2 linked regions of the Homo sapiens genome follow. The protein of the gene in region 2 purifies or fractionates together with the protein of the main gene of each other region. This does not show direct contact. Each region holds a gene or a part of one and is shown on either strand. Other genes may lie near its edges. The genes, in order: HCLS1 and WIPF1.

The links.
Region 1: the proteins of WIPF1 (region 2) and HCLS1 purify together in Homo sapiens (pull-down; one study listed by IntAct). This does not show direct contact.

The regions. Positions count from the first base shown.
Region 1 is NC_000003.12:121,647,159-121,650,984, forward strand, and holds part of HCLS1 (hematopoietic lineage cell-specific protein), read right to left. Parts: intron 291-3,826; coding exon 161-290; intron 1-160. UniProt on the Homo sapiens protein: Substrate of the antigen receptor-coupled tyrosine kinase. Plays a role in antigen receptor signaling for both clonal expansion and deletion in lymphoid cells. May also be involved in the regulation of gene expression.
Region 2 is NC_000002.12:174,563,216-174,567,041, forward strand, and holds part of WIPF1 (WAS/WASL-interacting protein family member 1), read right to left. Parts: intron 1-3,826. UniProt on the Homo sapiens protein: Plays a role in the reorganization of the actin cytoskeleton. Contributes with NCK1 and GRB2 in the recruitment and activation of WASL.

The sequences.
Region 1 (3,826 bases), on a different chromosome or scaffold from region 2:
TTTTAGTAGAGATGGGGTTTCACCGTGTTAGCCAGGATGGTCTCGATCTCCTAACCTCATGATCCACCCACCTTGGCCTTCCAAAGTGCTGGGATTACAGGCGTGAGCCACCGCACCCGGCTTGTATTTTTTTAAAGCAAATCTTTCCCTTTCAACTTACCTTGTCCATTCGGTCTCTTTCTACTCCAAACCGACCTCCATAGCCATGGGATGCTTTGGGCCCTGACTCCATCTCTTTCTTCCTGAGAACATCATGCTCCTCTGATACTTTGTTCCTCAGCTGGTGGATGCTGGAAGAAACCACATGACCAAGGCTCATCTATCCTAGGGAGATCAAGAAACCCATCTTCCCAGAAAAATGGAAGCCTTGAAGTCTGTCCTGTTTACTTTCAGTAATAACCTGGGCCCCCAAAATATACTAGTGATGGGTCTGGAAGTAAAAGATCAGTCTGGCCTGCATACCATAGCCTGATTTAAACTCTCCATAGGCCAATAATATTTCCTCTAGTCTGTTATTTGCTCACTAAAATAACCTTCTGATCTTTAGTCCCATTTTTCATGTTCTTAAATATTAGAGGACAATGGTACCTATATTCTGATAACTGGAAAGTTATTTTCTTTTCTGAATGGATCTGCTTTCTATCAATTAGAGGATGTGTCTCAAAAAGCAGAAAAATATTCACATACCATTGGACCTACACATTCTAGTTTTAGCAGTCTACACCAGGGAAATGATTTTAAATATGGCAAAGCTTAATGTCCTTAATGTCTAAATGATACTCATTGAAGCATCGTATATAATAGCAATAACTAAGAAACAATCTATATGACCAATGGTTGGATAATAGTTAAATAAATTGAAATACTACCTTTCACTAGTGTACTAGGAAGTCATTAAATATAATGCTTATAAAAACACAGAACTGGGGAAATTTATGTAAACATTAGTGGTATTTTTTATGCTTTTTGGTCATGAATTAAGATCTTCTGCCCCTTCCCCCCAGGCTGATAATACCTGAGAAAACTAAGGACTAATGAAAACTAACTAAGAAAATCCACTCACAGTTATTGCTATAACACTTTAAGCCTCAAATTATCTTGATTTGAAGGGACACCTCTATCCCTAAGAGAAAGTACCACCAAAAAAGGCATTATCTTTCTTACTTCACACCCACTTCCATCTTTACCATGAAGGTGACTGCAACAATTAAGAGGGCAGAAAGCCATCTTGGCCAACCTCTTTGGCTTGAGGATATGAAGTGATAGCTCAGCCCCACGTGACAATCAGATCTGTTATTTGGACACATATAAGGATCCGGGGATTCTTGGAAACATTTGGGCAAGAGAACCCTAAATAAGAAATTTGACTTTCTGCAGCAAGCAATGAGGGTTTAGGGTATTAAGATAGTGATGTTAGATGGTGAGCTGGGACTTTACCAGCGCAGGACAACCAGACACATTGGTTATACGTAGAATGGCTGTCTCACAGCAGAAATTGTCTTCTTTTAAGGAAGAATAGATCCATCTGGTGGCCTTTAGTGGATAATTCTACCAAAGGTCTTTTTAAAAAGCCTTCTCAGCTTTAGCCGCAGTTAATTTTAGAAAGCTGGCTATGAACCAGATGAAATTAAGCCAAGTGCTGGAAGAACCCCCTGTTCCCATGCCTCCTCTAAACTCTCTGGCAGCGTTGAAAGCAGAGATCTTGTGTTGTCAGTTCAACACCAACACTGTGTCATAAGCTACTAGTACCAAGGACATGTAAATGCCTGCCCAATATCTTCCAACTGAAGTATTCAGATGAAAGATCAAGAAAATGGGGCCAAAATTTACTTTCAAATGGAAAAAATCTGCAATTTTTTAATGAATATAATAATTGTTAAATGGGTTATAACTATATTATAGTTAAAACAAGTTTTTAAAAGGGATTAGAAAATGATACTCAGAAATATTCATCTAAAGGATAACAGAAAAACTAGTCAGGGGATCATACCAATGATATAATTTGAATGAAATTGTTGAGGCCCAAAGAAAACAGACTTCTTTAGGTTATAGTGGAAGTCATTCTAAACAGGTCTTTATTATTATTATTATTATTGAGACAGAATCTTGCTCTGTCGCCCAGGCTGGAGTGCAGTGGTATGATCTCAGCTCACTGTAATCTCCGCCTCCCGGGTTCAAGTGATTCTCTTGCCTCAGCCTCCAGAGTAGCTGGGATTACAGGCATGCATGTCATGCCCCGCTAGATTTTGTATTTTTAGTAGAGACAGGGTTTCACCATGTTGGCCAGGCTGGTCTCAAACTCCTGACCTCAAGTGATCCTCTTGCCTTGGCCTCCCAAAGTGCTGGGATTACAGGCGTGAGCCACCACGCCTGGCCTAAACAGGTCTTAATCACATCATTCCTTCATTTTATAACTATTAACTAAACAACTTTTAAGTGTGAGGTACTGTTAGGCTCTGAGGACACAAAAATGTTTTATGTATGGAGATAGAGGACAGCTAGAAGAGATAGAGAGGAAAACAAAAAATTCCAATTCAATATGCTGTGTTGTGCCTAAGAAACTTTTGACATATTAACTCTCAGATATCCAATTTAAGTTTTAAAAGACTTTGTATTGATAAAGCAATGCAGTTTATGTGAACCAAGCAAAATGTAGCACCTCAAAGATGACTCATTCCTCAATCTGTGTTTGTTTTTTATTACAAAACTAAAAGCACAAATGTGAGTGACTCAGAATATAAGGTTTTTATTCACAGATGACCTGATCATGTATGTAGAAAATCCTAAAGAATTCACACAAAAAAAGCTACTAAAGCATTGTGCATTTGGCTAGGTCACAGGATACAAGGTCATTATATCAAAATCAATTGTATTTTTACATACTGGCCATAAACATTTGGAAACTGGAAGTTAAATATAAATACATGAAATAACATGAAACATTTTAGGATAAACTTAACAAAGTATGTGCAAGACCTAAACACTAAAAAATATTTCTGAAAATATTAAAGAAGATCTAAATAAATGGAGAGATATCCCATGTTCATGGATTGGAAAACTCAATATCATTAAGATGTCAGTTCTCCCTAAAATGATCTATAGATTCAATGCAATCCCAATCAAAATCTGAACAGGCATTCTTGTAGGAATTGACTAGTGAATTATAAAATTTATGTGAAAATGTAAAGTCCTGGAATAGTAAAATCTTTTGTTTCTTTTTTTTTTTTTAAGGAGAGCAAAGTTGAGGACTACATAATTTCTTGACTTATAAAGCTACAATAATCAGTGCAGTATGGTATGCTGTCAGGGTAGAAAATAGATCAACAGAACAGAATAGAGTCCAGAAATAGACCCACATGTATGTGGTCAAAGATGCCAGGTAAGTCAATGGGAACAGAATACTCTTTTAATATTGTTGAACAACTAAATAATCACATGGAGAAAAATGAACCTCAATCTTGACCTCACACTGCACAGAAAAGTCTACTTGAAATGGGTCATAGACTTAAATGTAAAAGCTAAAACTGTCAGTCCTTTAGGACAAAACATCAAAGAAAGTCTTCACAACTTTGGGGTAGGTAAATATTTCTTAGACACATAAAGCATTAGCCCCATAAATTTTTTTTCAATAAATTAGACATCATCAGGATTAAGATCTTTTGCTCTTAAAAAGATGCCATTAATAAAATGAAAAAGTGGCCAGGTGTGGTGGCTCACGCCTGTAATCTCAGCACTTTGGGAGGTCAAGGCGGGTGGATCACAAGGTCAGGAGCTCAAGACCAGCCTAGCCACTATGGTGAAACCCCGTCTCTACCAAAAATACAAA
Region 2 (3,826 bases):
GTTTCATAAAAGTTAGTGATGTTGAACACCTTTTCAAGTACTCTGTCGATGTGTTCTTTTAAAAGTTATTCACGGCCCAGTTGCAGTGGCTCACGCCTGTAACCCCAGCACTTTGAGAGGTTGAGGAGGGATGATGGCTTGAGCTCAGGAGTTTGAGACCAGTCTGGGCAACATAGCAAAACCCTGTCTCCACAAAAATTAGCCGGGCATGTTGGTGTGCGCCTGTCCCATAGTCCCAGCTACCTGGGAGGCTGTGGTGGGAGGATCACCTGAACCTGAGAGGTCGAGGCTGCAATGAGCCAAGATTGCGCCACTGCACTCCAGCCTGGGTGACAGAGTGAGACCCTGTCTCAAAAACAAAATAAAAACCAAAACCAAGCTATTCATGGGCTATCAGTCCACTGTAACTAGGCTTAAAACCCATTCACATAAAAAAAATTCATTTACTACACAAACATTTGTTGAGGATTTAACAGGTGTTTGGCATGAGGTCAGGTGCTCAGATGTTGTGAACAGGTCTAACTGGGGCATGTGTCAATCAGGTAGGTCTGCTCTAACCACTGCTCTGAGACTCAGTGGGCTGGAACTGGCAGATTCCTCAAGTAGGCATCTTGATAGGGACCCTACTGGTCCACTTAGGGATTTCTGAGAAAGAACCAAATTTCTGAGCAAGGAAGGGAGTTAGGAGAAAACACTGAAAGAAGCACCTCTTCCTCTCACCATCCCAACCAAATATTTTCTTGGGCAGGCATCTGAGAAAAGACTCATCTGGATGTAAACCAGACACCTATCATGGGGCCTTGACCATCAACTGACCCGCCACAAGTGGTTAGTAGAATGAGGGCTGGCCTTGTCCAAAGCTGTAATTAGAGGGCACTCCAAGTGCATTCGGTACTGCTCAGGGCTGTCTGGGTGCGCTCTCAGGCTGTGGGCTTGGAGGCTGAGGCTGCTGCAGAGCAGAGGAAAACTTGGTACTCGACGGTGCCTTATTTATTTTTGTTAGATGATCCATTATCATTATAAAATATTAAACATGCCTAATGCTGGAAATATTTAAGGCAAATCTACAAAAAAATTTTGGTAGACTGTGGAAATTAATTCACCAATTTAAAAACTACTTTTAGGCGAGGCATGGTAGCTCATGCCTATAATCCAGTGCTTTGGGAGGTTAAGGCAGGGGACTACTTGAGGCCAGAAGCTCAAGACCAGCCTGGGTGACATAGAGATATCCTGTCTCTATAAGAAAATTTTTAAAAAGAAATACTTGAAAATGCCCTTTATGTTTCAGGCTCTGTGCCCCTCAAGGAAGGTGCAATAGTGAGCAGGACACAGTTCTAGTCCTTACATTGCCTACTCAAGTCTTAAAGGAGGATGGGAGAAGATATATGCTTAGCTATTCCATTAAAGATCTAGAGGGTACAGGGAAGATGGTCTATTACCAATTTAAAAATAGAAATAATATTTAGAATAAGAAGCAAATAATAAGTTAGGAAAAATATTTGGAGTCTATATGAACAACTCCTTAAAGTCAATTCATTTATTGGTGCCCAAGAAGGAAGAAGGGCTGTACTCTTATCAAACAGAAGCCCTTCTTCTGGTGCACACACACACACACACACACACACACACACACACACCATTCAAAGATATCTGTCCCATGTGAAAACTTACTTTTCACTAACACTTTTTTTTTTTTTTTGAGATGGAGTTTCGCTCTCGTTGCCCAGGCTCAAGTGCAATGGCGACTTCTGCTCACCGCAACCTCCACCTCCTGAGTTCAAGCAATTCTCCTGCCTCAGCCTCCTGAGTAGCTGGGATTACACGCATGCGCCCCTATGCCCGGCTAATTTTGTATTTTTAGTAGAGACAGGTTTTCTCCATGTTGGTCAGGCTAGTCTCGAACTCCTGACCTCAGGTGATCTGCCCACCTCAGCCTCCCAAAGTGCTGGGATTACAGGCGTGAGCCACCGTGCCTGGCCTTCACTAAAAATTTCAATCATCAACTCTTGTATAATAATTTTATTATAGCTATACTTCTTCATTAGGTATTGTCTATGAATGCAGTCTTCCACAGAAACAAATCTTTTCAGGAATTAAAGTTTTCCTTTTAAGCAGTAGTATTCTGTTTTCTTCTAGCATTTGTCCATGGAAATTTTCCTATATTTTCTAACTCTTTAAATTTTTCTACAGAGGCACAAAGCACAGTTTGACTCAATTAATTTAATTCCATTTAACCCAATAGAAATTCAACCCAACAGAAACATCTGGTGTTGTCCTGCGCTGTGACACACAGCACAGCCATGTTCCTGTCTCCTCCTCTGACCTGGGACTGCCATCTGTCACTTCTCTCCCATGTCAGTGATTTTGCTTCTCACCAGTCTTAACTTTAGCTGTTATTAATCTCCTATAAGGTTTGGAACCAACCAACCAAAAATTACTTTAAACTGTGTTAGGAAAGAATCAGTAGGCTTTGAGTACATGTAAGGTGCTCTGTTAGGGAGTGGGGCCATCGCTAGGGGTGTTGTGACATATTTGACTTGTTTGCTTAAGTTTTCTCTATTTCTGGTTTGGGAATTTGGCTCTGAGGCTAAGGCTGCCACGAACCTCAGCCTCATGGATGACATATGCATATTTCATGCTAATTCTTTCTTCGTTGTATACATTTTTTTTTATTTTTATTTTTTTTGAGATGAAGTCTCGCTCTGTCGCCCAGGCTGGAGTGCAATGGCGCAATCTCAGCTCAGTGCAACCTCTGCATCCCGGGTTCTAGTGATTCTCCTGCCTCAGCCTCCTGAGTAGCTGGGATTACAGGCACACACCACCATGCCCAGCTAATTTTTGTATTTTTATATTTTTAGTAGAGATGGGGTTTCACCATGTTGGTCAGGCTGGTCTCGAACTCCTGACCTCGTGATCCGCCCACCTCAGCCTCCCAAAGTGCTGGGATTACAGGCGTGAGCCACCATGCCCAGCTATTGTGTTTTTTTAAAAGTAAATTTCAGAGGCTTTCCAGCAAAACCCTGGAAAGCCTGCTAGACAAATTCTCAAAGAGCTGTAACACTTCCTATACATTTACTGTTATAAAATTCCAGTTTGTCTATTTTTCCTTTCTTGTTGACATTCTTCTTCAATGGAGGAAAAGCAATTTAGTTCTTTATGGTAGCATTACCTACATTAGCAGAACAACAGAAATAATTTAAATGTCCATGGTAATGGTAAATTACTATATGCTGAAATAAAAACCATGTGATAACATGGGCACTATTTACTAAGCAATGTTATGTAAACCCCGCCAAAAAACTGTACATCGTCATTATAACTACATAAAAAAACAGAATTATATGGATAAAAAATTGGATGAGAATCTGGTAAAATGAAAATATCTATTATGTGGAGAGATTATGGATATATTTACATTTTCATGTAATGCTCTGTAAAGCTATGATTACAATACGTTTAAAAGATCAAGGCAGTTAAAGGGAGTTTTTGTTATAATTAATCAGACATTATGCCAATTTCAAAACTAGAAGGAATAGAAGATGGCTCTACTTGTGCTGTCTCAGGAAGATGAAAACAGAGGAAGACGTCCAAAGAAGTAAAATAATAAAATTTAATACTAGCAAACCACGGTATTTTGAGCTTGTAATGACACATTAAAATAACTGTTTCTCATATGCATTCTGGGCATCTGCAATTTCCTCACTGCCTGTGGAAGGGGAATTTACTAGAATGTAGATGGCTCCAAAGGGTTCTCTACCCCACTCCAGGCAAGAAGCCTGGACTTTCTATATAGCCCGAGTGTCACTCAGGCTACTCAAGCGTGAAT